Homo sapiens: one gene and its partner. The protein of the gene in region 1 purifies or fractionates together with the protein of each later gene. This does not show direct contact. Each region holds a gene or a part of one and is shown on either strand. Other genes may lie near its edges. The genes, in order: AKT3 and SNX8.

Evidence for each region.
Region 2: the proteins of AKT3 (region 1) and SNX8 purify together in Homo sapiens (affinity purification with mass spectrometry; 2 studies listed by BioGRID and IntAct, with this or other methods). This does not show direct contact.

What each region holds. Positions count from the first base shown.
Region 1 is NC_000001.11:243,837,128-243,853,475, reverse strand, and holds the start of AKT3 (RAC-gamma serine/threonine-protein kinase), read left to right. Parts: upstream 1-3,232; 5' UTR 3,233-3,436; intron 3,437-9,891; exon of another isoform or gene 9,892-9,932; intron 9,933-10,193; 5' UTR 10,194-10,305; coding exon 10,306-10,351; intron 10,352-16,348. UniProt on the Homo sapiens protein: AKT3 is one of 3 closely related serine/threonine-protein kinases (AKT1, AKT2 and AKT3) called the AKT kinase, and which regulate many processes including metabolism, proliferation, cell survival, growth and angiogenesis.
Region 2 is NC_000007.14:2,264,967-2,281,314, reverse strand, and holds part of SNX8 (sorting nexin-8), read left to right. Parts: intron 1-3,009; coding exon 3,010-3,215; intron 3,216-6,085; coding exon 6,086-6,203; intron 6,204-9,343; coding exon 9,344-9,465; intron 9,466-11,675; coding exon 11,676-11,756; intron 11,757-16,348. UniProt on the Homo sapiens protein: May be involved in several stages of intracellular trafficking. May play a role in intracellular protein transport from early endosomes to the trans-Golgi network.

The DNA of each region.
Region 1 (16,348 bases):
GGTGATTAAGTCATGAGGGTTTGAGCCCTCAAGAATGGGATTAGTGCCCTTATAAAAGAGGCTCAAGATGGCTGGGAACATTAACTCATGCTGGTAGTCTCAGCTACTCAGGAGGCTGAGGCAGGAGGGTTGCCTGAGCCTAGGAGTTCCAGGCTACAGTGAGCTATGATCATGCCACTGCACTCCAGTCTGGGTGACAGAATGAGACACTGTCTCTAAAAAAAAAAAAAAAAAAAAAAAAAAAAAAAAAAAAAAAAACAAAGAAAAAGAAAAAGAGGTCCAAGAGAGTTCCCTCACTCTTTCTAAAATGTGAAGACACAGCAAGAAGTCACCACCTACAAACCAGGAAACGGAACCCTCTTTAGACACCAAATCTGCTGGTGCCATGATCTTGGACTTCCCAGCCTCCAGAACTGTTAGAAATAAATTTCTGTTCTTTATAAGCTACCTAGTTGATGGTATTTTGTTATAGCAGCCTGAATGGACTAAGACATTAGATGCTCTGAAATTCTAAATATCCTTCCAGTTTTAGTTACTCCCAAGAAATGGGGGAAGTACCAAGAAATAGCTCAGTATCAAACTTAGTCATTGGTAGTAAAGAAGAATGAACATTTTTCTTAAAATGAATAAATAACTAATACTGAGAAATGTTAATCTTAAGAATATTTGGTGTAATAAAGAATGAAGGCTTTCTTTGCAAAATTTAGGAGGGACATTCCCAGGGATGAACATGCTGGCTGCACTCCATATTACTGGATGTGATAACAAAATAGAGAAGAAATCTGCCACACACTCTGTATGGAGTACCGACATACCACAATCGGCAGATTCTACCAAATTCATACCGGCATAGTCTAAGAGAAAGAACAACGTTATTTAAATAAATAATATCCCTAATCAATAGTAATTCAATAACAAAATCAAACATGCTTTTATTATGGAAACTTATGAAACTACTATAGTCCACAAGCAAAAATTGAACAGAAATAAAAACTTATAATTCTTCAAATACATGAAGCCGAGAGTATATAATCCATTCTCACATACTGAATTTTAGGGTTTAATCCACCTAAGATTTAATGCAATCTGACCAGACTGGGAGAAATATTTTGAGGTAGTATGGCTCATAAGACACATTCAGTTCTTGTAAATATATTGATGTTAAATTTGGGAACAAATGAACATCTCACTGATAAGAGATATCTAGTAATTCAGTAATTCCGGATACTCTGACTCTCAAAAGTTAAGTATTTAAAGTTTCAGACACTCTTTTTAGTGCTGGTGTCATAAGGGACTATTTTCTTAAAAATAAAAAGCAAGTTGGGGTACTATGGAATAAAAATATGACCTATTTTTGTGTTTTACAGCAAGAAACCTGTAACCCAATAATTTTACCAATAGTGACTGTGAGAGGTCTGATAATTATGGGAATACATTATGTATATTTTATAGATACAACGAAAATAGGACAAAGTCTGTTTATTCATCAGCTCATAGCATGCTGGGAAATATGGGAAAAGGGGAAAGGCATGGTGCAGGACTTTCTCTCAGACGGACTGTGTTATCTTAAAATGGCAAATTTTGCTCCAGGGTGGTCAGGGAGACAAGTTTCCCTTACAAACGGAGAAAACTGACTTTTTTAAAAAACCCTTTTATTTGGTTTCCTACTCCTGTCCACAATCCCAACAGATGCACAGTTCATAAAAGATGTGAACCTGGAAGTATAAATATTAATACCACACAGTACATAAATACCAGGGGGCTACAGTATAAGAAAATGACTACCATAAGAGAGTTGTCAAGACATAGAAAAGCAGAGAATGAAGTGCATGTCAGGAGGAGGAACTCTTCTGCAGAAAGAAGCCACAGACATTAACAAAAATGTTGCAGTGGGAGAAAGTAACAGGTACATCAACAAGGCTAGAGCCACGTGGCGGGATAATAGGGATGCTGCCCAGGTGTTTCCAGAAGCGATAAAACTTGTAAACTTTTATAATTTTCTGAAGTGCGCTGCATGGTAAAATATGGTCATTGTGCAAAAAAGTTGTCCCCAATGCAGTCTCAGGAGTCACTGACTTCAAAATAAAGAAACGGTCTCTTCGTAGTAAATGTAGTACCTCGTGGCTTTCCCAAAGTCATTGAAAACGAATATCCCTAAAAAGGGTGTGATTTCAAGAGTGAATTACGATCCGCCCGCAATCTGTGTACCGTGTGTGGACGAATGCTTGCAGCGAGCGGTGCGGAAGGCTGTTCAGAGAGGTGTTTTTGGTCTGCCGTGGTCTCCTGGGATAGTCAGGAATGATTCTTGCTACGGGCTGACCCGGGTTCCCTCTTCCCCGAGGTGCAGGGGGTGGGGTCGGCTTCTGGACTGCTCCGCGCTCTCCGGTCCCTACCTCATTGGGCACCGCCCACTTCGTGGGCTTCCAGGTGCGAGCCCTCGCGCCGGGCCCATCTCCCCAAGGGGCCGCGGCGGACTGGAGGAGACGCCCGGGGCCTGGCGGCGCGCGCGTCCGCGGCCAGGGCGGGTGGGCGGATGCGCCGAGGAAGCGGCTGGGCGAGGAGCCTCCGCTCCCGGGCCTCGGGTGCCCGCCAAGGGCCACGCGGGCGAGGGGGAAACCCAGAACTTCCCGCCCGGGAGCGACTGCCCCCGCTCCCGGCTCTGGCTGGCTAGGGGGATGTTCTCGCGAGAGGAGAGGGGGCGCGGGGCACCGCTGGTTTGGGGGCGCGGGGAAGCCTGAGGACGAGGGCCGGGCAGGGAGGGGAGCAGAGGCGGCGGGCAGGGCCGGGGACGCGGGGAAGCCGCTCCCGCCAGTCGCCGAGAGCCAGCCCCTGACGTCAGGAGTTTTCCTCAAAGTCAACAACAAGCCCCGCGGCGACGGCGAGAACCGATCGGCGGCGGCCCCGAGCGGGAGGAAGGAGGGGGCGGGGAGGCGGCGGGGGGTCCCCTCAGCGAGGCGCAGCCCGGGAGGAGGCCGCAGAACCCCTCCCCGCGCCGGGCGCGCCCCGGGGCCCAGAGCCGCCGCCCCGCCGGCGTGACCCGGCCCCCGCCCGAGCGGTGTTTTCTGGTGATGAATTTGTAGCCGATATCCGATTCCCATGTAGAGTCTCCGCCTCCTCCTCTCCCCGCCGCCGCCCTCTCTCCTCCCTCCCCCTCCCGCCGCCGCCGCCGCCGCCGCCGCCTCCCGCTCCAGCTCCGCGGCCCGGCCCGGCCGGCTCCCTCCCTCCCTCCCCTGCAGCCCTTCGCTTGCCCTCCCGCCGGCCGCACCGGGCTCCAGGAGGCCAGAGGCTCTGTGGGGTGGGGGGAGGACAGGAGGGGAGGAGGAGGGAGGGGGGACCCCCGAGTCGCCCCCTCTCCTCCCCCCGCCCCCCCCCGGCTCCATCCTCCGCCGCCGCCCGAGCAGCTGCGGGGCCGCCACCGCCGCCGCCGCCGTTGCAGGTAACAGCCACCGCCCCCAACTCTAGCCCCCTCCCCGCCTGGCCTCCACTCCCTCCGGGCCCCGGGCCCCGGTCCGCCCTCCCTGCCTCCCTCAGGCGGGGGATGGCGGCGGGGTGGGGTGAGGCGGGGGCTTCTGGGTTGTCACCGCGCCGGGGGCGTGGGCGGGGGCTGGGTCACCGGAGGCTTCGGGTGTGGGTGTGGAGGCCGGGGGATGCCCAGCGCGGTTGACACCGACACCCCCCGCTTTCCGGGGAAAGCTGGGGGGCGGCGGTGCGCAGCGGGCCGGGGGAGGGGTGTTCCCGGCCTAGCGGTACCGTCTGTGTCTGGGCTGCCCCGGCCCGGCGCCTGCTGTCTGCGCAACTCTCGCTCCTTCCCCTCGCCCCTCCCCGCCCGGGCCGCGCGGCGTGGGGAGGGGGCGCCCGCCTGGACCGGGGGCGGCGGCGAGGTTATATAACGCGTGGAGCGCCGGTGTCAGTGTGTTTGGGTTGGGGGGAGGGAGCCGTCTGCCGCGCGCCCTGGCGCTGAGGCTGTCTGCGCGTGGGGTGGGGTGAAGGCGAGGATGCACAGGCGTCCCCGGGGTCTCCTTCCTTCCCCCACCCTTCCCCGCCACTGGCGCGCAGGAAAAGACGGCACTGGTGGGGTGGGGGGGGGGGTGTGTGTGTGGGAGGTGGGTAACGTGCTTGTCTGTGTTTTTAATAGTAGTGGGGTTTTGATCCGCTTGGGAGTTGTGTGCTAAGAATAGAAATGTGCGGAAGATGCTGGGTTTGGCTGATCCAGTGATGCTGTCGCTGCTGGCGGCGGCGGCAGCTCTGGCTGCAAGTAAACAGACCAGCCTCTTCCTTGTCCACCTCCTCCGGCGCATCGGTCCGCATCAGCCATGATGCCGGTGGGGCCCTTCAGAGCCCAAAGTTGAAGCCTAGCTGGTTGCTGTGTTGACCCTGACGCCGAGGCGGGGTCACCATCCCTTGTTTGGGATTTCCCGGGAATCTACAGTTAGCCTAGAGATAAAGAATCTCGTTGGGGCCAGGTTTTTCCAATACCGGTATTTACTGTTTATGTTCTGAAAGCAGAGGAAATGCTTACCCACAAGTCAAAGCTGGGATGCTCACATTTCTTCCATCAAAATAATGTTGTTATGAAAATAAAACCAACTCATTTCACCAATGTGGCATTTTGGTTGAAAGCCTGGTAGTTTGCAATTGATGAAGTTTCCAAATAGAAAGTCAACAGTGAAACCTATGCATCTATATTGGGTAATTTCTAGCCATAATAAAGTGTTCACACTTTGATTTTAGTTGAGGCTAAAGTAAAAAATAATGGCTTTTTGTAGTTAATACATTGGCAGTTGTCTCAACAGTTTAGACATGTGTTCCGTATTTGGTAAAGCATGGTCATATATGTCTTTTAGTAGAACTATACATCACTAGGCAACCACTGGGTTTTGTCAGTGGTTGAAGCTGACAAATGAGTGAAACTCATTGGTTTAGGTTATGTATTTACTTAGGAAAACGAAGGTGGAAGAGTCTAATAAAGATGGTGTAGGAAATGAAGATTAGTCTTCAGAACTTGAGTATCACTTGCAAAATATGTATAAACGAATACAAACATTCCGGGGGTGGTTGTCTAAAACATGAAAATATTTTATAATTAAAATAGCAACTTATTACTAAGTTACTAGTTTTCCAAGGTTTATGACTTAATGCACAATTATATGCAAGATATATATCCGGACTGTAATTGTTTTCCTTTTGCCAGTACATTATCTTGACTTGGAAAGTTTACCAAGGAGATAGTACTTGAAAGTTTACAGGGAGATGGTACTTGAAGATCTTTTTGTTTTCCTTACTAGGGTTGACCCCAATATCTTTGATTGGCTTGAGGTTCCAGTTTTAAAGTGAGGGAGGACAAATATTACATGAATGAGACTGTTGAAATTTAGATGAATGTAGGGTTTTAGTTTTCAGTTGTGTATTTGCATTGTGGTTTTGCAGCATGTTTTCTTACAGCGTTTTAAAAATAGTCCAAAGTAATCCTGCAAAAATTGTGAAATTATTATTTGTATTCATTTGGTTTTCTTTCCATAATTATTACTGGAGTGAATTGTTTTCCAATTTAAAATTAATTTTTGGCTTAATAATCTTGACATCGACTCTAAATTGTATATGTCAGAGTACTTTAAGGTTTTGCTTTGGACTTTTTAAAAATTAATTTCATAGCTGTAAAATATTTTAAATAAGATTATATTTAACAAATACTGGAGTGTGAACTGTGTGCTGGTTTAATTAAAAACTTTTAATATTTACATTTCATTCAGAAAATCACTGTCAGAAGGAATCTGTTTTCAGAATCACTGCAAATCTAAATAAACGTGTTGATTAAACTTACTAGGGAACAAATGGACTTAGCATAGAGACTTGTGGAAAGTAAGGACTTATTTTTTAAGCTGTAGCTTTTGATGTAAACATCAGAAATTTTCTCATAAAAATTCAGTGGAAATTTCCAGCTATCTGGGTTTCTTTAAAATGAGGAACCTGTTTTACAAATTGATTTTGTAGAAGTTTAGCCTTTACTTAAACTTTGTGTATTTTCGTGAAAAGATAGCTATGTTTTCTTTTGTTATTATATCTTTTAGTTCAAGAATTTGTCCTTGGGAAGGTAAGGCAATCACTGTTAACAACTTGTTAGTTGGATGCTTAGCATGATTTGATAGGAGCTTGTCTTTATAGTGTGATTAAGTTTTGAAGTGTTAAAAAGAAAAATTTAAAACTATCTTAGATTTGAGCAACAAAATGCAAGAACTGAAAAACCATTTTCATTTTGAGCAAATCAGTCTTGTGATCTGACTGGCATTTTTATTTTTAAGTTAATATGCATTAATAATACAATTAATTTTTGTTAGAAGATTTGTGTTACTCCAGGTTTCAGCATGTGCATCAGTATTTTAAATCCTGGTCACACAGCATACCTTCTTTTGGAAAGATAGTCCTGAATCTTCCGACAACAAATACTTTGTCCTGATCTTTTACATGGGATAGGATTAGATTCAGTTTAGAGTTAATGCTAACCAATGCCTGGTAAGCAGTTGCCATGTGCCAGGCACTGTTCTATGTGCTTTACCTGTATTCATTTAATCTTTCAAACAACCCCTGCTACACTTTTGAAAGTGATTTTCACATAAGAAAAACTTATTGTGGCATTCTAAAAATACCTTTTATTTAAACTTTCCTAATTCTGCAACACTTCTAGTGTTTTTCTTGTTTGTACCTATTATTACAGTTAACAGTGATAATTCTAAATTTGCAAAATTTGGTACAATAATTTCCATAGCATCAAGTTAATAAAAGTGTATTGACTGGCCCATTAACATCACCTTTCATTTGTTTAAAATGCCAAATTAAATAACTCAAATGTTTACAGATTTTATTATAGCATCATAGTCTTTAATCAAATTAGATGTAAACTCATTTTCTCTGCCAAGTAATCTTTGAATACTAATGGGTAGATAAAATTAATATATGCTTCTTGACTTGTTGATGTGTTTTTTAGTTCTGTTTCTTTTCAGTACTCTATCACCAACTACAGGTATTTCTCATTTCTAAATATTATGAGAGGAAAGTAAAAAGATTTACTAGAAGAAAACACTAGAATTGCAAATGATAATTTTTCTTCCCTATATTAGATAATTCCTATATATATATGGATGGATTTAAAAAAATTTATAATTAGGGAGATTCCCAAGACAGATTTTAGGAGGATTTTACATGTATATTGGAATCTATATTAGAAAGCTTCTGACTGTATTTGGGGGACTAGGGGATGGGAGGGGAAGGAGGACAGTATTTTTCCAATAATGGAGCTTAGCCCAAATTTTGTCTTAGTTGAAATGCTGTTTGAATGTTTTATCTTCCAATTATCAAACTTTTGAGGACATGAACTATGTATGTATAATCATGTCTTTCACTTATGATGCCATCTATATATGAAGTAGATACTCCGTAGATTTTAACTTGCAGAATCATAAATATTAGCTCTGGAAGAGCTATAAAGCTATTCAGAGTTCATCTAATGCTATACTTTCATTTTTATGGCTCCGGAAACTGAGGCACAGATAATTAAAGTGACCTTATACAGCATCACTCTGGGTGGGGCAGGGACTCAAGTTTCTTGGTCTTTCTGGTGCTCTTCCTAATACACCATTGTGATGAACCTTGTTAGAGGATTCCATACCTATTGGGTAGCTCAGTTTAATCTGGGGGTAAATTCTGTCAAGCTGATTCTTGGTATTTAATGGACCATATATCAATTGCATTTTATATGTATGTATGGATTTTTAAAAATTTATGATGAGGCTCCCAAGACAGATTTTAAAATGATTTTACATGCATATTACAAAAATATGGCCAACTGTGCAACCAAATTCTTTTTCTTTTCTTTTCTTTTTTTTTTTTTTTGAGACAGGTTCTCACTGTAGCACCCAGGCACGGTCACCACTCAGCATAGCCTAGACTTCCTGGGCTCAGGTGATCCTCCCACCTCAGCCTCCTGAGTAGCTGGGACTACAGGTGCCTGCCACCACTCCCAGCTAATTTTTGTATTTTTTGTGGAGATGGGTTTTGCCATGTTGCCCAGGCTGGCCTTGAACTCCTGGACATAAGTGATCCTCCTGCCCTGGCCTCCCAAAGTGCTGGGATTACAAACTAATATCCCTTTTTGACACTCTACAGCAACAGACTCATGGTGATTTTGAGGAGTCTCAGCCTTACCTATAGGTTCTGCCTGTGACCTCATAATACATGAGGCTGGTGGTCTTGCATTCAGCTACATAGCTTTTGTCAGGCTATTTAGTCAGGCTGTCTAGAGAATGTTTAGTCTTGATTCCTGACTGTTAAATGGTTAAGCTCCACACTTAATTTGCATTGAAGAATGACCTGTAGTCTAATTTAGCGCTAGGTTGGGAGTCTAACACTGAACTTAACTGCTATGTATCATTTATCACAAACCAAGTTGAGAGAGTATGTTTGTGTAGTCCATCTATCCATTTTTCTAGTTATCTAAAATTTATGATATGATTCTTGACCACATAACACTGGTGTACCTGGACCACATTTTTTGGTCCCCTTCTGTGCAAATGGATTTACTAATTTTATGTTGGCATTTTCCTTTTTAGTTTGAGAGTGACAATAAGCAATGACCCTGTAAAACTCATTGCTGTATATGGGAGGGTGTTTTTGAGGACTTTCCCGCATACATCTTATGAAGAAGACCCATGGGATAAATTCGATGTTTGTCCCAGGAAAAGTTGTATTTCTTCTGAGGAACTTTTTTTGCTTTTTAAAAAAATTTGTGCAGCGTGGACAATATAGCGGGACCCCATCTCCACAAAAATTTTTTTTAAAAATTAGCTAGGCATGGTGATGCCTGCCTGTAGTCCAGCTCCTCAGGAGGCTGAGGTGGGAGGATTGCTTGACCCCCATTGGAGGCTGCAGTGAGCTATGATTGTGCCACTCTACTCTAGCCTGGATGATGGGGGGAAACCCCATCTCAAAAAAAAATTTTTTTTGGATACTGTAAATAGGAAAGCCTGTTGTGTTTTGTTATTTGCATTGTCTTCCCAAGAGCTCCATGCCAAATTTGTGACGTATCTTTCCCAAGTATGTATGCCTTTACTCTGACTTCTTTTTATCTTAAGGCAGTATAGTTTTGGAATGCAGGCTCTGGAGTCAGACAGCCTGGGTTCAGATCTTGGCTCCACATTTACTAGGTGTGTTGAAATTGAGCAAGTTGGTTTATCTGTGTGAGCCTCAGTTTCCTTGTCTGTGAAATGGAATTAATAGTATCCTCATAAGGTTATAAAGATCACATAAGAATAATAGATGTAAGTACCCGTAACAGTTCTTGGCACATCTTGAGTACTAAATATTTTTTTCTACTTTCATATTCCCTTTGTTTCACTTTACTTTATAATAAGTACATAATATGAAATCAATTATTTTTTAATCTCCTTAAAATATTTCTTGGAACAGGCAGAGTAAGAATACGTAAATGATGAGTTCTTGGTACGTTGTATTTTATATCACTTAAAGTATTCACGACTGGTTGTGGTGGCTCACTTCTGTAATCCCAGCACTTTGGGAGGCTGAGGCGGGTGGATCATGAGGTCAGGAGTTTGAGACCAGCCTGGCCAATATGGTGAAACCCCGTTTCTACTAAAAATACAAAAATTAGCAGGGCGTGGTGGCGCACACCTGTAGTCCCAGCTGCTTGGGAGGCTGAGGCAGAAGAATCGCTTGAACCTGGGAGGTGGAGGTTGCAGTGAGCAGAGATCGCGCCACTGTACTCCAGCCTGGCGACAGAGTGAGATTCCGTTTCAAAAAAAAAAAAAACAAAAAATTTACAATTGCTTCTGAAATTACAGGGATTTAGGGCAATTAACTTTCATTCTCTTCCCTCTTCACCTCAAATACACATCACCAAACAAATTTTCTCTATTATTTGGGTAGGCGTGACTGGTTTTCTTAAGACTTTTTTGTTGCAACCTCTTAGGTTAAAAGTTTCACTATCATTTGAAATTGGTCACAAGACTAGGGAAGTGCTTTCATTATAGAACTATTTAATAAATAAGTTCCCCAGTTTGAAGAGCCAGACTTTTATGTGAGGTCAGGCCAGTTGAAGACATTTACAAAGAATTAGTTGTTTGTTATTGCTCTGTGAGTTGCAAGAATGGAAAAAAAATTCTTTCTTCAATACTTCCTTCCAGGCTGAGTCATCACTAGAGAGTGGGAAGGGCAGCAGCAGCAGAGAATCCAAACCCTAAAGCTGATATCACAAAGTACCATTTCTCCAAGTTGGGGGCTCAGAGGGGAGTCATCATGAGCGATGTTACCATTGTGAAAGAAGGTTGGGTTCAGAAGAGGGGTAAGTGCTCCGCAAACCAAAAATAATACGGTTGGTAAGAGTGCTAGCAGTGAGTGGTGTCTTAGAAGTTGATCTTTTTTCTGATACTGTTAAACTGTGTCATGCTATGTCTAGTAAGAGAGAAATGATATATTTAACGTGTGTTAGGAATTTGCTTGTTATTAAGGGATTTTTTTGTAATTCTTGATTTTGAGCATTTATAATCTAGTTAAGTTAGGTTTGACTTTCTGGTATGTTGTGTGTAGCGTGTTACAGAAAGTGTTGTATTTTTCTGTGGTGTCTACAGGTTCTGTAATCTGGAGAGATATCTTTAGAATCATTTAATATATGTAAAAGTACGATCCTATATGCATTTAATCACATGTAAATATATAAATAAGAGAATTAAGCCAGTTTGAATGGTTGTAGGGGAATGGCTTAAAGTAGAAAAGGGGAAAGGGTTCACCCGCAAACTCATGGATTAATCCCATAAATTTGGTAAGTAAAGTCCTGACGTAAAAGGCCAAATGAGGACAAGGATTTTTTGTGTGTGTATGTTTATGTTTAATTTCGTATTTTTATTTTTCATCATCTAGGTTTAATACACCTTGTTCACTCCTACTTTAGATAAATAACTTAAGCACATTATTATTTTTTATTATTAAAGGAAGAACCCTTCGATGTAAAGCGGTTTATCATCTGTGAGATCACCTGCTTATGTGGTCAATATATTTATTAGAAATTTAGAGTTTAGATTAGTTGCTAGGCAACTACTGTTTACCCACATGGCCACGTCGAGTAGGATGAGGACTGTTCCATTCTCAGAACCTTTTAGTTCCTGTATATCTACTTTATGGTTACAAGTTCCCTCCTAATATTGATTTTAATATTTTTTGAAGGTCTGTAGTAAATACCTATCCTGAAAAGCTGTTGTCATAGTTAAATGTGATTATGGATTATTTTTTAAATGAGCCTTATTAAGTCGTAACTTACATAATAAAATTAAGCAATGTAAAGTCATAATTTGATGAGTTTTGCCAGAGATACACAGTAGTGTAACAAACACTCTGAAAACGATATAGTGGTTATTTTCATTAACCCGAGAGGTTCCTTTGTTCTCCCTTGCAGCCCAGTCCTCATCCCTTAACCCTGGCAACCACTTTATCTGCTGTTACTATAATTTTGCTTTTCTAGAATTTCATATAAATGGAATCATGCAGTACATAGTTTTTTTATGGCTGATTTCTTTTACATAGCATAATACTGTTAATATTCATCCATGTCTTGTATATCATTAGCTTTTTTTTTATGGTTGAGTAGTAGTTCATGGTCTGGATATATCACAGTTTATCTGTTAATCACTTGTTGGACATTTGGGCTGCTTCTAGCTTTTGGTTAGTACGAATAAAGAGTCTGGACATTAGAGTGCATGTCTTTGTGTAATGTGTTTTCATTTGTCTTGGGTAATAACTTAGGAATGATATTGCTGGGTCATATGGTAAGTGTGTGTTTAACTTTATAAGAAGTATATGTTTAACAAACTGCCCAGCTGTTTTCCGATGTGCCTGACCATTTGTATTGTCAAGTGTAATTTCTTTCAATGTCATTCTCCTGTTATAAATTACGAAAGCATTTTCAGATTTCAGTGCTTTATAAAGGCTTTTTTGATTTACTTTTTAAACGTATTTATATTATTCTACTTTTTTTGGAGGGGGATGGCAAATCACTTGAACCTTTTTGAGTTTTACTTTACTAATCTCTAAAATCTGCTTTCACAAGATGGTTTTGAGGGTTAAATGAGATGATGGTTGTGGATTTATTTTGACAGTTCTAACACAATGTAAGCTGTTGCTATCTCCACATATTTATCAAAGGTTTAGGATGATTCTTTAGTCTGTTTAATTAATTATATCTTTGAAATACCATAATAGAAAGTATTTAGTCCATGGACTATAGAAAAAAAAATGAATAAGAATTTGCCATCATTTTTCTAATAATGTGTATGTGTTTATTTTGAGATGTGTATGTGTATGTGTTTCTAATAATGTGTATGTGCTTATTTTGAGATGAATAGTTGCATAAACATAAAAATTTGAATAACACACAAAGGTATAAAATGAAAAATAAAAATCTCCCTATCTTTTCTACCTCCTTTGTCAGAGATAATCATTTTAGAACTTTTTTTCCTATTTTTAATTGTCTCATCATTATGCCAGTTTTTTATATAATATACTAAACTTTAACCTTCAGTAACCTAATATCTCCCCATTGTGAAAAATAGAAGGATTTAACTTTTAATACTGATCCTACCTTCTTCCTTTTATTTTTTGGTTGCCTTTATGATTAAACTTATAGCTGTTTAACAGTTAACTTTAGAGTGTTCAGACATTGTCTCTAAACTTGCCACTTTATAAGTTGTAAAAAAAAAAAATTAGCTTTTCTCCTCATCTTTCCCTTGAATTCCTCACATTCCCTTTCCAGTTTTTCAACTGTAACATTTATTTTATATGTCAAGGTTTATAATAGTTATACTTGCTGATTCTGAAAAGCAGTTAAAATATTACATTATATAAATAATATGACTAAACAAAGTGGTATGATGAGATTCTTAGAGAGCAAATGGATTTATTTTATTTTACTTTAAGTTCTGGGATACATGTGCAGAACGTGCAGGTTTGTTACATAGGTATACATGTGCCATGGTGGTTTGCTGCACCTGTCAACCTGTCACCTAGGTTTTAAGCCCCCCATGCATTAGGTCCTCATGCTCTCCCTTACCTTGCCCCCCACCCCCAGCAGGCCCTGGTGTGTGATGTTCCCCTCCTTGTGTCCGTGTGTTCTCATTGGAGAACAAATGGATTTCTTACGCTCTCTTTGTACTCCAGAGCTGCCATACTTTAATTTGGTTTCTAGTTTGGACTGTGGCTATTTTTCCTGGATTTTCTTTATTTTTATTTTATTTTATTTTATTTTTTGAGACGGAGTCTCGTTCTGTCACCCAGGCTGGAATGCAGTGGCATGATCTCGGCTCACTGCAACCTCCGCCTCCCGTGTTCAAGTGATTCCCCTGCCTCAGCCTCCCGAGTAGCTGGGATGCCACCATGCCAGGCTAATTTTTTGTATTTTCAGTAGAGACGAGATTTCACCGTGTTAGCCAGGTTGGTGTCGATCTCCTGACTTCGTGATCTGCCTGCCTTGGCCTCCCAAAGTGCTGGGATTACAGGCGTGAGCCACCGCACCCGGACCTTTTCCTGTATTTTCTGTTTTTTTTTTTTTTTTGAGATGGAGTCATGTTCTCCGTCTCATCAACAACAACAACAAAAAATTGATATAATAAAGTTATAATATAGTTATTACTTTGAATATTAGTCTTTTTTCGTAAGACTATATGCATCAATTGTTGTTATCTCCAGATATAATCTGATTTGTACTTTTAATGTGAGTAAGTTGCTTTTCAGTAAATATCTTCTTGGAAAATAAAAAAAGGGCTGAAAGATAAATATTCATTATTACGTAGGATAAATGCTTTCCTAACCTTGGTTATTAGTGATATATTAATAGTGATATCCTATTTTTTACACTTTTCTGGACAGTTGAAAATGATAAGTATTAATTGAGATAACACATTACCATAGTATTGTTGGTGTTAGAAATGGCAATAAAAGAAACATCACGGAGCAAACATCAAGTAAAGTATTGTCTGCGTTTTCCTCCTTGATGGATCCAGGACAGCTCCTTACAACTTGGTTGCACATCAGCATAGGAGGCATCTCTGTATATATTAAATACTTACTAAATGATCTTACTCAAAGACGAGCCTGTAGGTATGTTCTAGGTGACTCTAAATCTCTAAATTGGATTTCAGCACTTCTCTTAATTTTTTCCCTTATAGCTAGTGGTAATATTTGCTATGAAGGTACTTAGTGTATTAATAAAGTAGGAAATTTAGCCAGTTTAAAAGGTCTAAATTATAGAATTAAATAAATTGCAATAGTATTAATTAAGGGCTTATTATAATTTATTAACTTTCATTTGCTTAATAAAATTTCATAAAAACCTAAGTAGTCTTTTATAAATGTGGAAAGCTAGTTCCTTGATAATAAGTTAAAATATAATGTATAACTAGTCAATTCATAATGTTACTGTTTTGAGATTGTCATAAATCTAAGAGGTGATTTTTATCATTAAAAGCATTTTGATGAAAATGTTCCATGCTCGTGTTACTTTATTCTACTTTTTGTATTAGTATCTAACAAACTGAACTTTCATGTTGTATTCTCTATGTGTAACCAGTTTTGGCTTTCAAATAACTTTTTCCCTTAGTTTTCTTTGTACTGACTTTGTCCTTTGAATAATATTTTTCTTATATTCCATGAAATGGTTTATTTAGATGAACTACAGTGTCGGTATTTGGTAATGCCAGGATAAAGATTTTGTGTCTATGAGTTGTCTCACAAGATAGCTTAATTCTGCTGAGCAAAATATACTTTAGCAACATAAAGATTGTGAACTTGGTTATGCTGTAAGATGTGATTCTTGTTATCTAGTCAAATTTAACAAGTTGTTACAGAAAACAATTTACATTTTTGAGTGTTTATCTAAGTCCAGGGGTCTTTTCTTCTCCTTTATTTTGTGCATGCATGTGTTTTTTTTTGTTCATTTTTTATTCACAAAATGACTTTAGAAATAAGTTATAAAATGATTAGGAGAAAGAAAATGACAGTATGATTTCCTGTTTACTACCCAGCAGCAAGCTTTTTCCATAGAGAGTAAAGAGCTGTGGTAGTGACTGTGTAAACCACATGGTACATTAGAGAAGCTCACTTTGACTGTTGAGGTTATACATGGAGAGTAAACATAAGAAAATTAAATTTATTTTCTAATGGTATTGAAACTCTGAGATTTAACTAATGTATTTACAATACTGTGAAATTAGCTTTTCTTAGAGTTTCAATGTATTATTTTTGAAAGTTTCAACCAATAGAACCACATGGAGCAAACCATCAAATAAGCTTTCATATACATTTTGAAGTTATTTATAGAATTGTAAAGTTGCTGTTACACACACACTTGCTCCTTCTCAATCAACAATCAAGTTTTATGTATTGATTTTGTAAGTTGAAGTCTCATGAAATTCACTTATTAATGTTAGTTTAAAGATTTTCTACATAGATGGTCAAGTTATCTGCGAACATCCACAGTTCTGCTTTTTCCTTTCCAATCTTTATGCCTCTGATTTCTTTTTCTGATCATATTTCACTGGATAGGACCTCCAGTACATTGTTGAATAAAAGTGGTAAGAGTGGATATTTTGCTTTATTGCTCATCTTATTGGGAAAGCATTTATTTTACCACTTAAGTATCACATTAGCTGTTCCTTTTCTGTTGCTGCCCTTTATCAGGTTGAAAAAATTCCCTACTATTCCTAGTTCGGAGAGTTTTTATCATGAGTGGTGGTCAGTTTTTTCTAAAGATTTTACTGCTTCTATTGAAATGGTCATTTGATTTTTTCCTTTTATTCTCTTAATATGGTGAATTACTTTCATTGCTGGAATAAATTCCATTTGGTCATGGTGTATTTAAAAAAATATATTACCAATTTGGACTTACTGATATTTTGCTAAGGGTTTTTTGCATTTACAAGAGTATTGATCTGTAAATTTCTTTTCAGTTTTGATACAGTGGTTATGCTGGATTCATAAAATAGGTTGGGAAGCACTTGTTTCTCATAAGGTGGATTGTATTTTTTCTTCAGTGTTTGACAAAATGTATCAGTGAAGCCATGTGGGTTGGAGCTTTCTTTGTGGGAAGATTTTTGATGATAAATGAGATTTCTTTAGATACAAGGCTATCCATATTTTCTATTTCCTCTTGTGTCATTTTTGGTAAATTGTATTTTTTAAGGATTTCCTTTTCATCCAAGATGTTCGTCTAAGTTACTGGGTGCAAAGTTTTTAATATTCCCTTATCCTTATTTTTATTTTTTTAGTAGAGCCAAGATTTGCTCCATTGCCCAGG
Region 2 (16,348 bases), on another chromosome or scaffold:
CCTGAGTAGCTGGGACTACAGGTTGCGCCAACATGCCCGTAATTTTATTTTTTGTAGAGATGGCATCTTATTATGTTGCCCAGGCTGGTCTTTAACTCCTGGGCTCAAGTGATCCTCTTGCCTCAGCCTCCCAAAGTGCTGGGATTGTAGGTGCTAGCCATAGTACCTGGTCTTTTTCTTTCTTTTTCTTAATTAAAATTTATTTTGCAAATATGGGCATCTGGCCGGGCGCGGTGTCTCATGCCTGTAATCCCAGCACTTTGGGAGGCTGAGGTGGGTGGATCATTTGAGGTCAGGAGTTTGAGACCAGTCTGGCCAACATGGTAAAACCCTGTTTCTACTAAAAATACAAAAATTAGCTGGGCATATTGGTGCACGCCTGTCATCCCACTTACTCTGGAGGCTGAGGCAGCAGAATTGCTTGAACCCGGGAGGTGGAGGTTGCAGTGAGCCAAGATTGTGCCATTGCACTCCAGCCTGGGCAACAGAGCGAGACTCTGTCTCTCAAAAAAAAAAAAAAAAGGGCATTCTAGTTTAGTAAATTGATATTTGAAAGCATAGCTTTCTAATGATTGGAACTTGTACATAGAAGTTATTGAGATGTTTGAGACAATCGAGAGTTAAAGAAGTGTCTTTGATTTAAAATGTGTTTTTTGAGCTCTTTCAGATTCTCATGCAATCAAAGTTCAAATTCTTCACCAACATGTGACCACTTGGTAATCATTACTGAGTTTACATTCTTTCTTGGAAGATTATCTTATCTTAATAATCAGGAAAATCATAAAAATTAATACATGCTTAATAGAGAACACTTATTTTAAACTTTTTTTTTTTTTTGAGACAGAGTCTCTGTTGCCCAGGCTGGAGTGCAGTGGCGTGATCTGGGCTCACCACAACCTCCGCTTCCTGAGTTTAAGTGATAATTTTCCTGCCTCAACCTCCTGAGTAGCTGGGATTACAGGTGTGCGCTAACATGTAAAAAACAAAAAAAATGAGAAACACTTTTTTTTCTATTTAGAACTCACTTTGTATTAAAAACCAAACTGACTTTTTAAACATTATTCCTTGTTTTGGTTTTTTCTTTGCAAGCTGGGCGTAGGATCTCTGATTTGCTTTTGCTGCTTTGTGCAGGGTGCACGGTGACTTCTTGTCTGTAAGGCAGCTGGAGTTTTCTGGCTTAATTCTTCCGTGCATGTGGTTGGGAGTCCTAGCTATAAGCAGGCCTGGAGTTTTTTCTCTTTCTTTCCTCCCTTCTTCTCTCCCCTCCCTCCTGTCTGTCCAGATGACTTTTTGGCATATGAAAGTAATGTGTTCACTGTGAACACACTGGGGCATTTAGAAGATCGTATGGCTAGTTTATTTGGTTTGAGCCTGTTCTCTTGGCTCTAGAGAAAAGGAAGATTCTTTTTCACACAAAACTTGTACATATTTCACTTTGTTTTCCTTCCCCAAGGTTAAGACTGATTTGATGTAGTCACAGAAATGTGGGTGTACTTGCTGATTCGTGAGCAGGTGGAAGCCTTCCAGGGAAGAGTTTTTTTTTTTTTTTTTTCTTTTTTTTTGAGACAGGGTCTCACTCTGTTGCCTAGGCTAGAATGCAGTGGTGCAATCATGGCTCACTGCAGCCTCCGCCTTCCCGGACTCAGGTGATCCTCTCACCTCCCGAGTAGCTGGGACTGCAAAATTAGCCAGTGAGCCACCACGCATGGCTAATTTTGTATTTTTTGTAGCGATGGGGTTTTGCCATCTTGCCCAGGGTGGTCTTGAACTCCTGAGCTCAAGCGATCCTCTTGCCTCGGTCTCCCCAAGTCCCAGGATTACAGGCGTGAGCCATGGTGCCTGACCACCATGATTTTTTTGAACAAAAGGACGTGCCCGCAGCGTCGACTCTGTAGCATGAGTGAGTGGGTCCAGCGTTGACTCCGTAGCATGAGTGGGTGTAGTGTGAGTGAGTCCAGCGTCGACTCCGTAGTGTGAGTGAGTCCAGCGTCGACTCCGTAGTGTGAGTGAGTCCGGCTTCGACTCCGTAGTGTGAGTGAGTCCGGCTTCGACTCCGTAGTGTGAGTGAGTCCGGCGTCGACTCCGTAGTGTGAGTGAGTCCGGCGTCGACTCCGTAGTGTGAGTGAGTCCGGCGTCGACTCCGTAGTGTGAGTGAGTCCGGCTTCGACTCCGTAGTGTGAGTGAGTCCGGCGTCGACTCCGTAGTGTGAGTGAGTCCGGCTTCGACTCCGTAGTGTGAGTGAGTCCGGCGTCGACTCCGTAGTGTGAGTGAGTCCGGCTTCGACTCCGTAGTGTGAGTGAGTCCGGCGTCGACTCCGTAGTGTGAGTCCGGCGTCGACTCCGTAGTGTGAGTGAGTCCGGCGTCGACTCCGTAGTGTGAGTGAGTCCGGCGTCGACTCCGTAGTGTGAGTGAGTCCGGCTTCGACTCCGTAGTGTGAGTGAGTCCGGCGTCGACTCCGTAGTGTGAGTGAGTCCGGCGTCGACTCCGTAGTGTGAGTCCGGCGTCGACTCCGTAGTGTGAGTGAGTCCGGCGTCGACTCCGTAGTGTGAGTGAGTCCGGCTTCGACTCCGTAGTGTGAGTGAGTCCGGCTTCGACTCCGTAGTGTGAGTGAGTCCGGCGTCGACTCCGTAGTGTGAGTGAGTCCGGCGTCGACTCCGTAGTGTGAGTCCGGCTTCGACTCCGTAGTGTGAGTGAGTCCGGCGTCGACTCCGTAGTGTGAGTGAGTGAGTGTGGCTGGCTGACGATGGGACCTGTTGCATGACGTGGCCAGAGTCCATGTGCTGAGCTAGCACACAGCAGAGGGAGGCTGCACTTTTCAATTTATTTTATTTTTTGTACAGATGGGGTCTCACCATATTACCTAGGCTGGTCTTGAACTCCAGGGCTCAAGTGATACTCCCTCCTGGGCCTCCCAAAGTGCTGGGATTACAGGGCTGCGCCACTGTGCCCAGCCAAGGCTCCAGCTTTTGAGCAGCTATTCTCACTGGTCATTCACCATCTCCCCTGCAGATCTGCCGACACCCCAGGCCATCGAGCCCCAGGCCATCGTGCAGCAGGTCCCAGCCCCCAGTCGAATGCAGATGCCGCAGGGGAACCCGCTGCTGCTGTCCCACACCCTGCAGGAGCTGCTGGCCAGGGACACCGTGCAGGTGGAGCTCATTCCGGAGAAGAAGGGCCTCTTCCTGAAGCATGTGGAGTATGAGGTTTCCAGCCAGGTAACTGGCAAATTGTGTGTGTGTCGGGGCAGGAGGGGGAAGAAAGGGTCACGTCTCAACATCTCAGGGCAGGAGTGGTGTGACAGGAGAAGGCTGAAGGGTGAGTCTGTGTGGCTGGCTTACAGGCAAGATCCAGAACTCGCAGCAGAGTCAGGCTGCGGAGGTGACTTTTCCACACCTCTGCTCCCCGCACCTCACTCTGGCCCAGCCACGTCCCCACCTGGTCACCCCTGGTCCAGTTTGTCCTCCCCACCACTGTGCTCTGGAGTCCTGTTTCTTTTTTTTTTTTCCCCGATGTGGAGTCTTGCTCTGTCGCCCAGGCTGGAGTGCAGTGGCATGATCTCGGCTCACTGCAAACTCTGCCTCCCGGGTTCAAGCGATTCTCCTGCCTCAGCCTCCCAAGTAGCTGGGATGACAGGTGCCCGCCACCACGCCTGGCAAATTTTTTTGTATTTTTTTTTTTAGTAGAGACAGGGTTTCACCATGTTAGCCAGGGTGGTCTTGATCTCCTGACCTTATGATCCACCCGCCTCGGCCTCCCAAAGTGCTGGGATTACTGGCGTGAGCCACCGCGCCCGGCCTGGAGGCCTGTTTCTTAGGAATCTCCCGCGGACGGTCCACAGAGCACAAAGCGGGATCCACACCAGCCTCGCTTTGTAATAGTGGGAAACCCCCGAGGATTAGAATGTCAGCCCCATCGACTCCGGACCCCAAACAGTGAATGAAATTTGCATGGCAGGATCAATATGTGTCACTCTAATCCCCTTTAATAACACGGCCCTCCTGTTGCTGGGCATCCCGATATTGGGCAGGTGAGACACAGACACCGAGTGCCTGATGCCCGTCTGGAGCAACACCGTGGCTCTCTCTGTCCCTTGCTTCGTTGTCTCAGTTCCATTACGACAGATTCTGATGGGAGTTTTCATTGTTCATCCTGGGCATTGAGTAATTGATGAGCTAACACTGTCCTTGGGAGGTGTGGAGTCAGCAGGGCTTGTGGGATTCGCACAGACAGAGCAGGGCCCACTCCTGTGTGGGAGAGGGCGGCCCTGGCCCAGCCCCGGCCGGACGGCACTGCCAGGGGCTTGTTTGAAAAGCGTCATGAGCAGATGGTCCTGGGTAAAAGTTGTGTCTTTTTGTTTGCTTGTTTTTAAAGAGACAGGGTATTGCTCTGTCAACCAGGCTGGAGTGCAGTGGCACGATCATAGCTCACTACAGCCTCAACCTCCCAGGCTCAAGCAACCCTCCCACCTCAGTCTCCTGAGTAGCTGGAACCACAGGCGGATGCCACCACACCAGGCAGTTTTTTAAATTATTTGTAGAGATGGGATCTCACTATATTGTCCAGGCTGGTCTTGAGCTCCTGGGCTCAAGTGGTCCTCCTGCCTTGGTTTCCCAAAGTGCTGGGATTACAGGCGTGAGCCACCATGCCCAGTCTTTTTTTTTTTTTTTTTTTTAAAGTACAAATGGAGACTTGCTATGTTGTCTCAGCTGGTCTCGAACTCCTGGGCTCAAGCAGTCCTCTCACTTTGGCCCGCCAAAGTGCTAGGCTCACAGGCATGAGCCACTGCACCTGGCCTTAAGGACAAGCGAGCCGGTCTCCCCTCCCTGCCGTCTGCTCTGCTGTGCTTCACTGTGTTCCAGAGCCTGTGGCCACACGGTCCGAATGGTTGTCAGTACTGCTACCAAAGGACAAAGCGGGTCAGAGGGGAGGACTCCCTTGGAGGACCGTGTCAGAGCCGCCTTGCTGTCTGGCTTTGCCGTGGTTCCCGGCCCTCTGGGCCGCAGTCGGGGATGTGGACCAGCTGGTGGGATGCCACGGGGGAGCAGAGCGAGCCACCCCTTCCTTCTGGGGCCTGGCAGCCTGGGGGTGAGGCAACTCTGAGCGTGTGAGACGTGCCGTTGCCTGCCAGGGAGCCAGCGGCTGGCCTTTTGTCCAGTCTTACTAAGCTGCCCGTCCCTTAAGTAAATTCATTGCCACATAGGGAACATTTGTCAAGGGGGCAGTTTGGTCACCCTGATGTGTGTGTAACGGGCCAGTCACTGACCAGGTGGGAAGCCACTATGCTTCATACCATTTGTTTAGTTTTTTTTTTTTTTTTGAAATGGAGTCTCGCTCTGCCGCCCAGGCTGGAGTGCAGTGGCGTGATCTCAGCTCACCGCAAGCTCTGCCTCCCGGGTTCACGCCATTCTCCTGCCTCAGCTTCCTGAGTAGCTGGGACTACAGGTGCCCACCACCACGCCCGGCTAATTTTTTGTGTTTTTAGTAGAGACGAGGTTTCACCGTGTTGGCCAGGATGGTCTCGATCTCCTGACCTCATGATCCGCCTGTCTCGGCCTCCCAAAGTGCTGGGAATGCAGGCGTGAGCCACCGCGCCCGGCCTTTTTTAATTTTTTTAAGACAAGGTCTCGCTTTGTCGTCCAGGCTAGAGTGCAGTGGCACGATCTTGGATCACTGCAACCTCTGTCTCCAGGGTTCAAGGGATTCTCCTGCCTCAGGCTCCAAAGTAGCTGGGACTACAGCCGCCCACCACCATGCCCAGCTAATTTTTGTATTTTTAGTAGAGATGGGATTTTGCCATGTTGGCCAGGCTGGTCTCTTTAACTCCTGACCTCAGGTGATTCACCCGCCTCAACCTCCCAGAATGCTGAGATTACAGGCGGGAGCCACCGCACCCGGCCTAAGAGCTATACAAAGTTTAAAAGTTGTATTTCCATATACGAAGCCGTCACAGGGTTTCTCCATTTAGTAAAGGCCTGGTGAGAGAAGATGCACTTGGTGCTGTCGTTTTCCCGGGCTCTGTTGAGGGGAAGTGACGCGACAGCATAGTTTCCAACGTCGGATCTAAGCACCGACCCTTCTCTTGCAGCGCTTCAAGTCCTCGGTATACAGACGGTACAATGACTTCGTGGTCTTCCAGGAGATGCTCCTGCACAAGTTCCCCTACCGTATGGTGCCTGCCCTGCCACCCAAGAGAATGCTGGGAGGTAAAGCCAGGCGTGCTGCCCACCGGGGGCGGAGGGAGCGAGCCCATCTCCTGGACCCTGTGGTCCTGGCTCAGGGATGGACCCCACTGTAGACCGGGGCAGGTGCAGGGCTGCGGGGGAAACTCCAGCCTTTTGGCATCTGGGACAGAGCTGTGGCTTGAGCCCAGCCTTGGTGCAGGCAGGGAGACTGGCACCCGGCAGCCTTGGCCCACCAGAGCCTTCAGCTGCATGACTGACAGGTGGGGAAGCCCTTGCTGTGCAGGTGTGAAAGAGAACCCTAGTTCTCCTCTCCAGAGTGCAGTGGCCAGGGCTCCCGAGAGCTCCCGAGAGGGCTGCCAGGAGCACTGTGTGCTCACCTGGCTGGCATTGCCCTGCCTGCATCTGCAAAGCCATGGCAGCCTGAGCCATGGGCACCATGGGAGCGCTCGGTGGCCTCATGGAAGAGAACTGAGTTGTGCAAGTAGGAAATGTCAGCTGCATCTTGCAGGAGAGAAAAAGCAGCACACGGCTGCCTCACCTTCACCTCTCTGCCTGAAGATGGCCTCGGGCCAGGTGGGAGATCGCAGACGACCTCAGAGCTGCTCCCCAGGCCTGTGTCCCCCTGGGCTGCAGAGCTTGGGATGGCGGCTGCCAGCTCTGATCTCACTGGTGGTCTCTCCCTCAGCCCGTTCCTCAAATTCTGAATAAAACATGCTGGGGAAATGAGTGCTTAGAGCTGATCATGGCTTTCTGCCGTTCCCAGCCCTTCCACAGTCACCGTGTCCTGGACGGGGACGCAGCATGGGAGCTAACACAGTCGCCAGTTCCCCGCATCTGAAATCGTACGATGATGCATAAATGCTTCTGCCTCTCATCGGTCACTGAGCAAGCAGCCCAGGGTCTGATGATGTGATTTTCACCCCGCCGCATGTGAAGGCCACAGAGCAGATCATTCAGCTCACGCTGAAGGGCACACGGGCGCTCAGGGCAGCAGAGAGCAGAGGACGCGACAGGGATGTGTGATGCTGGCTCAGGCCTGGGCATCCGAGTTGATGAGCGCTGGCTGGCGTTCAGCGCCTGGAAACTGCACACGCGCGCTGGGCCGCTTGCGCATTTAAGGAAGTGCAGCCTCATCGGAAGAGGCCTGCCAGTGCTGAGCCAGGAGGGAGCCCCAGCCACCTACCTGTATTGTTTGTTTTCTTTCTTTTATGGTGTTTTTTTTTTTTTTTTACATGGAGTCTCGCTCTGTCGCCCAGGCTGGAGTGCAGTGGTGCAATCTCGGCTCATGGCAAGCTCCGCCTCCCGGGTTCACGCCATTCTCCTGCCTCAGCCTCCCGCGTAGCTGGGACTACAGGCGCCCGCCACCACGCCTGGCTAATTTTTTTGTATTTTTAGTAGAGACGGGGTTTCACCGTGTTAGCCAGGATGGTCTCAATCTCCTGACCTCGTGATCCGCGCACCTCAGCCTCCCAAAGTGCTGGGATTACAGGTGTGAGCCACCGCACCTGGCCTCTTTTATGGTGTTTTTTGTTTTTGTTTTTGTTTTTGAGACGAAGACTCGCCGTGTCACCCAGGCTGGAGTGCAGTGGTGCGGTCTCGGCTCACTGCAAGCTCCGCCTGCCGGGTTCACGCCATTCTCCTGCCTGAGTCTCCCAAGTAGCTGGGACTACAGGCGCCCGCCACCACGCCTGGCTAATTATTTTTTTTTGTATTTTTAGTGGAGATGGGGTTTCACCGTGTTAGGATGGTCTCAATCTCCTGACCTCATGATCCACCTGCCTCAGCCTCCCAAAGTGCTGGGATTACAGGTGTGAGCCACTGCGCCTGGCCTCTTTTATGGTATTTTTCAGAGACAGGGTTTCGCTACGCTGGCCAGGCTGATGTAGAACTCCTTGGCCTCAAGTGATCTGCCCTCCTCAGCCTCCCAAGAGGCTGGGATTACAGGTGTGAGCCACACTCCTGGCTGTATTTCTTAATACATTAAAAATAGTATTTAAAGGCTGGGCGCTGGTGGCTCATGCCTGTAATCCCAGCACTTTGGGAGGCTGAGGTGGGCGGATCACCTGAGGTCAGGAGTTCGAGACCAGCATGACCAACATGGTGAAACCTCCTCTCTAATAAAAGTATAAACATTAGCCAGGTGTGGTGGCGGGTGCCTGTAATCCCAGCTACTTGGGAGGCTGAGGCAGGAGAATCGCTTGAACCTGGGAGTTAGAGGTTGCAGTGAGCCGAGATGACACCACTGCACTCCAGCCTGGGCGACAAGAGTGAAACTCCGTCTCAAAAAAAGTATTTAAATACCATTTTTGTTTGTGTTCAGATTGAAATGTCCTGAATGCATCAGTATATGCTTTTACTTTTTTTCCCCTTGGAGTGAAAATATTTAACCCGAATGAAAGCAATGAGTAATTGCATCCTTTGCAGAGTAAGTTATAAGCACAGTGAATAGAAAAACTCGGCCGGGCGCGGTGGCTTACGCCTGTAATATCAGCACTTTGGGAGGCCGAGGCAGGTGGATCACCTGAGGTCAGGAGTTGGAGACCAGCGTGACCAACATGGTGAAACCCCATCTCTACTAAAAATACAAAAATTAGCCAGGCATGTTGGCGGGCCCCTGTAATCCCAGCTAATTCCAGAGGCTGAGACAGGAGAATCGCTTGAACCTGGAAGGCGGAGGTAGCAGTGAGCCGAGATTGCGCCACTGCACTCCAGCCTGGGCAACAGGAGCGAAACTCTGTCTCAAAAAAAAAAAAAAGAAAAGAAGACCTGGGTTGCGTTAGTGTTAGAGCGTAGCAAAACCCATTTGTTTGCAGTGAGAAGTGCCAGGAGGGGATTATGGAAGATGTCTTTAACGGAGGTGATTAAAGTGACCACTCACGTGGTTCCCAGGACTCCCGATGGAAACAAGCAGATCTGTGGTTTTCCTTGGCAGCTCCTGGACCCAAGTGTGTGTGGCTGGAGGGGGCCTCTGGGGGTGAGGTTATTGCTCTGGGCGGCCTTTTCAGACCCATTGTCTGAGCAGCACTGGGGGCCCAGCCAGTGCCCTCTGCTAGCCGCTGGGCCCTCTGCCACCTCTAGGGAGAGTTTTGAGAACTCGCCCAGAGCAGAAGATGGGGGCCGGCGCCCTGGACTCTGTCCAGTGACCCCGTGTGCTCCTCCAGCTGACAGGGAGTTCATCGAGGCCAGGAGGAGAGCCCTGAAGCGCTTCGTCAACCTGGTGGCGCGACACCCCCTGTTCTCCGAGGATGTGGTCCTCAAGCTCTTCCTGTCCTTCAGCGGCTCGGTGAGTGTGTCTGCCCTGCCCATGTCCCGGCCCCGGGGAGTCCCCGAGCCTCCGGACCCGCCTTTTCCTCTCTCAGGTGTGGTTTCTTATCCTCCTGGTCCCTTGTTTGGACGCCCAGCAGGAATGACATGGACAAGACTTCTTTCCTTTCCAGATAACAGTCTGAATGTGATTTTCAGAGGTGTCCCTGGTGTTGACTTTGCAGGATTTTGTAAATCCGCGTGGAGATCATGGATCTCTGTGGTCACTTTGAGGATTTAGGCTGGATGGTTTGGAGGGTTTAGGGAGGTGCCAGAGACTCCAGATGGGAAGAAGTGTTGACTTAAAACAAGGCCCTGTCTGACTAAGGACCACTGGAACACAGGCTGAGCCTCCTTGTCAGAGCCACAGCCCACACCTGCATCCGGGAATTAACTTGTTGTACATGCACTCCGTCAGAGGTCTGAGTGGGGCTTCCCTCCTCCCAGCTGCTGCGGCACAGCCTTATTGTGTGTCAAGAAGCTACAGTTCGCAGGTACAGTGGCCCACGCCTCTAATCCCAGCGCTCGGAGAGGCCGAGGCTGGATGGTCCCTTAAGCCCAGGCGTTTGAGACCAGCCTGGACAACATAGCGAGACTTCGTCTCTACCAAAACAAAACTGAGGCCAGGCATGGTGGTGCACACCTGTAATCCCAGTCACTTGGGAGGCTGAGGCATGAGAATCGCTTGAACCCAGGAGGTGGAGCTTGCAGTGAGCTGTGATTGTGCCACTGCACTCCAGCCTGGGCGACAGAGTGAGACCCTGTCTCAAAAAAACAAAAAACAACCCTGCAGCCCAGCTCCTGTTTCCTGGAGGAGGAAGCAGCTGCCAGCCCCTCCAGGGAAGGCGGGTCCTGTGCTTCTCCTCCACCTGTGCCTGCAGGACCCTCTCCCTGTGCGGGGAGGGGCGGGGGCTCCACTGGAATAGAGGTTTCCAGGCTCTCCTCTATTTCAGGGAAACCCCGTCTTGAATGGGGACCTGACGGCCTCTGTCCTTGTCCCTGCTGCAGGAAGACACCCCCTCTCCCAGGCTGACTTCACACAAGCCTTGGTTCCTTTTGTCTTCGTTCCTCTCGGAGGCAGAGGGGCCTTCCCCCTGTGCCTGAGATGTCCCTGGGATGCCCCCGGGGATGTCTGGAGCAGGCAGTGGGATCTTTTGAGCCCTGGGGTTGGAAACCTTCCTTTGGAGGCGATCTGCATTGCCAGCAGAGGAATGTGGCAGGACCTGGGAGGGGCGGTGGGCAGGGGTGCAGTGGGTCACAGGTGGGCAATATCCCTGTTCTGGGGGCAGGACGTTCCCTGTGGCCTTCCCACAGGTATCATTCTCTGTCACTTCCCGGCCTCAGTTTTCTTGCTTGCTTTCTGTTTTTAGAGATGGGGTCTCACTATGTTACCCAGGCTGGCCCTGAACCCCTGGGCTCCAGCGATCCTCCCGCCTCAGGCTCTGAGTAGCTGGGACTACAGGCACGCACCATGCTGGGCCTCAGGTCTTTTTTTTTTTTTTTTTTTTTTTTTTTGTAAAATGAGAGTTGAGTCAGATGATCTTTAAGGCATCTCTGAAACCTGAGAATTCCTGGACACGCAAACAGCTGCATATTAGGGTTTCCCCTTGTATCTCCTGGGTGGCTCCTGACTTTAAGGCACGGCTTTGCCCAGGAGGCCTCTTTCAGATGAGAGGGCTCCGGTGCCAGGGGCTGGGCCTGTCCCTCTGCCCAGCAGCTCCCTGGGCTCTGGTGTCCCTGGCGCCATGGATGCATTCCCAGGAAGGAAGACACTTTTGCCCTGTTCTATTGCGTTTTTGGAAGCTACCAGGGTCTCAGGTATCTCTGGGGCTGACGCCGCCCCGGGTCTGTGGATGGAGGGGCCGTTTCTCTGCAGAGCCGCCCCTGGTCTGTGGATGGAGTGGCTGTTTCTCTGGAGAGCTGCCCCCCGTCTGCGGATGGAGTGGCTGTGCCTCTGGAGAGAGGCTGCAGGTTTGTGGTGCTCCTGCTGTGAAGCCAGGCTGTCCTGTTTGGTGAGAAAAACATCTAAGGGAGAGTCAAGAGATTGCAGAATACTAATGTCAAAGCCAACATATGGAAATGTGTTTCTCCTGAGGAAAGACGACCTCCCGCTCCACAGTGACCCATACCCCACAGCAGCTTTCTTGCTGCTAGTAGAAGAGGGTGAAGCTGTGTGTTTTCCTTTTGCAGGATGTGCAGAACAAGTTAAAGGAGTCAGCACAGTGCGTCGGGGACGAATTCCTGAACTGTAAGCTGGCTACCAGGGCCAAGGTATTTTTCTTTTTTTTTTCTTTTTTTTTTTTTTTAATTTATTTTTTTATTGATCATTCTTGGGTGTTTCTCGCAGAGGGGGATTTGGCAGGGTCATGGGACAATAGTGGAGGGAAGGTCAGCAGATAAACAAGTGAACAAAGGTCTCTGGTTTTCCTAGGCAGAGGACCCTGCGGCCTTCCGCAGTGTTTGTGTCCCTGATTACTTGAGATTAGGGAGTGGTGATGACTCTTAACGAGCATGCTGCCTTCAAGCATCTGTTTAACAAAGCACATCCTGCACCGCCCTTAATCCATTTAACCCTGAGTGGACACAGCACAGGGTTGGGGGTAAGGTCACAGATCAACAGGATCCCAAGGCAGAGGAATTTTTCTTAGTACAGAACAAAATGAAAAGTCTCCCATGTCTACTTCTTTCTACACAGACACGGCAACCATCCGATTTCTCAATCTTTTCCCCACCTTTCCCGCCTTTCTATTCCACAAAGCCGCCATTGTCATCCTGGCCCGTTCTCAATGAGCTGTTGGGCACACCTCCCAGACGGGGTGGTGGCCGGGCAGAGGGGCTCCTCACTTCCCAGTAGGGGTGGCCGGGCAGAGGCGCCCCTCACCTCCCGGACGGGGCGGCTGGCCAGGCAGGGGGGCTGACCCCCCCCCACCTCCCTCCCGGACGGGGCGGCTGGCCGGGCGGGGGGCTGACCCCCCCACCTCCCTCCCGGACGGGGCGGCTGGCCGGGCAGAGGGCCTCCTCACTTCCCAGTAGGGGCGGCCGGGCAGAGGCGCCCCTCACCTCCCGGACGGGGCGGCTGGCCGGGCTGGGGGGCTGACCCCCCCCACCTCCCTCCCGGACGGGGCGGCTGGCTGGGCAGAGGGGCTCCTCACTTCCCAGTAGGGGCGGCCGGGCAGAGGCGCCCCTCACCTCCCAGACGGGGCGGCTGGCTGGGCGGAGGGCTGACCCCCCCACCTCCCTCCCGGACAGGGCGGCTGGCCAGGCGGGGGGCTGACCCCCCCACCTCCCTCCCGGATGGCACGGCTGGCCGGGCGGGGGGGCTGACCCCCCACCTCCCTCCCGGATGGGGCGGCTGGCCGGGCGGGGGGCTGACCCCCCCCACCTCCCTCCCGGATGGGGTGGCTGCCGGGCGGAGACGCTCCTCACTTCCCAGATGGGGTGGCTGCCGGGCGGAGAGGCTCCTCACTTCTCAGACAGGGCAGCTGCCGGGCGGAGGGGCTCCTCACTTCTCAGACGGGGTGGTTGCCAGGCAGAGGGTCTCCTCACTTCTCAGACGGGGCGGCCGGGCAGAGACGCTCCTCACCTCCCAGACGGGGTCTCGCCGGGCAGAGGCGCTCCTCACATCCCAGATGGGGCGGCTGGCCGGGCGGAGGGCTGACGCCCCCCACCTCCCTCCCGGATGGGGCGGCTGGCCAGGCGGGGGGCTGACCCCCCCACCTCCCTCCCGGACGGGGCGGCTGGCCAGGTGGTGGGGCTGACCCCCCCATCTCCCTCCCGGACGGGGTGGCTGGCCGGGCAGAGACGCTCCTCACCTCCCAGACGGGGTCTCGGCCGGGCAGAGGCGCTCCTCACATCCCAGATGGGGCGGCGGGGCAGAGGCGCTCCCCACATCTCAGACTATGGGCGGCCGGGCAGAGACGCTCCTCACTTCCTAGATGTGATGGCGGCTGGGAAGAGGCGCTCCTCACTTCCTAGATGGGATGGCGGCCGGGCGGAGACGCTCCTCACTTTCCAGACTGGGCAGCCAGGCAGAGGGGCTCCTCACATCCCAGACGATGGGCGGCCAGGCAGAGACACTCCTCACTTCCCAGACGGGGTGGCGGCCGGGCAGAGGCTGCAGTCTCGGCACTTTGGGAGGCCAAGGCAGGCGGCTGGGAGGTGTAGGTTGTAGTGAGCCGAGATCACGTCACTGCACTCCAGCCTGGGCACCATTGAGCACTGAGTGAACGAGACTCCGTCTGCAATCCCGGCACCTCGGGAGGCCGAGGTTGGCGGATCACTCGCGGTTAGGGGCTGGAGACCGGCCCGGCCAACACAGCGAAACCCCGTCTCCACCAAAACCAGTCAGGCGTGGCGGCGCGTGCCTGCAATCGCAGGCATTCGGCAGACTGAGGCAGGAGAATCAGGCAGGGAGGTTGCAGTGAGCCGAGATGGCAGCAGTACAGTCCAGCTTCGGCTCCGCATGAGAGGGAGACTGTGGGGTGAGGGAGAGGGAGAGGGGGAGGGGGAGGGGGAGGGGGAGGGAGAGGGCCAAGGTATTTTTCTAACTTTGAAGAGTACATCCCTTTTTAACCAGAGAAACAAGTTTTAACCCTTCAAAGTGATTTTGCCTCCTCTGCGTGGCAGGGATTATGCTGACATCTGTCGCATGGTTTCCTCATTTAACCCTCGTTTCAGTTGCTCCGACACAGGGCTGGGAGGCCTGTTTTACGGATGGAGAAACAGGCTCAGGGAGGCTGTCATTTGCCAAGGCCCCGAGCCTCTAAGCAGCAGGGCCGGGTTGCGGCTGAGCTCTGCCCTCAGGCCCTCCAGGCACCTCGTGCCCTCTGCCCTTTTCTGTGACTCAGACAGACGGATGCTTGTGTCAGCACCTTTTCAGATTTCTGGGGATTCATTGTTACATTTGTTTATTATTAAATGTTTAAAGTTTGGTCTTTTTCCAAAAAAGACTAAGGTAGCTACTTGGTAGTTTTTTTGTTTTTGGTTTTTTCTTTTTAAACCTCTTCTTCAGGCTGGCGCGGTGGCTCCTTCCTGTAATCCCAGCACTTTGGGAGGCTGAGGCTGTCGGATCACTTGAGGTCAGGAGTTTGAGACCAGCCTGGCCAACATAGCAAAACCCCATCTCTAATAAAAATACAAAACAAAAAAGGAAAACAAAAAAAAGCAAAACAAACCCCAAAAAACCGGCCGGGCGTGGTGGCTTACGCCTGTAATCCTAGCACTTTGGGAGGCCGAGGCGGGTGGATCACGAGGTCAGGAGTTCAAGACTAGCCTGACTAACATGGTGAAACCCCGCCTCTACTAAAAATACAAAAATTAGCTGGGTGCGGTGGCGTGCACCTGTAATTCCAGCTACTCAGGAGGCTGAGGCAGGAGAATTGCTTGAACCTAGGAGGAAGAGGTTGGAGTGAGCCAAGATTGCGCCACTGCACTCCAGCCTGGACGACAGAGACACCATCAAAAAAAAGAAAAAAAAAATTAGCCAGGCTTGGTGGCAGGCACCTGTAATCCCAGCTATTTGGGAGGCTGAGGCAAGAGGACTGCTTGAACCCAGGAGGCAGAGGCTGCAGTGAGCCCAGGTCGTGCCATTGCACTCCAGCCTGGGTAACAGAGTGAGACTTTGTGTCAAAGACGACAACAACAACAACAAAAAAACCAGAAAAAAACCTGCTTCTTCATACAAAAATTAAAAATCTATTTTATTTTATTTTTTGAGACAAGGTCTTGCTCTGTCCTCTAGGCTATAGTGCAGTGGTGCAATCGTAGGTCATTGCAGCCTCGACCTCCTGAGTTCAAGCAATTCTCCCACTTCAGCCTCCCAGAATAGCTGGGACCACAGGCATGCACCACAGTACTTGGCTGATTTGTTTGTTTGTTTTTGGTATAGATGAAGTCTCACTATGTTGCCCAGGCTGGTCTTGAACTCTTGGCCTCAAGCAATCCTCCTGGCATGGCCCCCCAAAGTACTGGGATTAAAGGCATGAGCCACCATGCCTGGCCAAATCTTTTACCTTCATTTTACTCTCTGAGCTTTCTGTTTTCTGAACTCTGATAGTTAGTATCAAATCTTATAAAAAGTCTTTGGGAATAAACGCGGCATAGAAGAGGCCTTCCCCCCATGTGGAGAGTCTTTCAGGAATTTATGTTCATTGTGTTTAACTTGAAGATTGTTTGTTTTTATTTTTGTTGTTTTCTGGGGACAGGGTCCCCAGGCTGGAGTGCAGTGTTGTGATCATGGCTCCTTGCAGCATGGAACTCCTGGGCTCAAGTGATCCTCCTGCCTCAGCCCTCTGTAAGCACCTGGGACCACAGGCGCTCCACCACGCCTGGCTAATTTTTTGATTTTTTGGGAGAGATGGGGTTTCACTATGTTGCCCAGGCTGTTCTTAAACTCCCAGGCTCTAGCAATCCTCTTGCCTCAGTCTCCCAGAGCGCTGGGGTACAGGTGTGAGTCACTGTATCCAGCTAAAGATTAGTATTGTTAGTTTTTGAGACGGAGTCTCGCTCTGTTGCCCAGGCTGGGGTGCAGTGGTGTGATCGCAGCTCACTGCAAGCTCCGCCTCCGGGGTTCATGCCATTCTCCTGCCTCAGCCTCCCAAGTAGCTGGGACTAGGTGCCCACCACCAGGCTCGGCTAATTTTTTGTATTTTTAGTAGAGATGGGGTTTCACCATAGTCTCGATCTCCTTACCTCGTGATTCGCCCTACTCGGCCTCCCAAAGTGCTGGGATTACAGGCGTGAGCCACTGCGCCCGGCAAGATTATTATTCGAGTGTTTTGTTGGTTTGTTTGTTTTGAGACAGAGTCTCGTTCTGTCGCCCAAACTGGAGTGTGGTTGCGCGATCTCAGCTCACTGCAACCTCT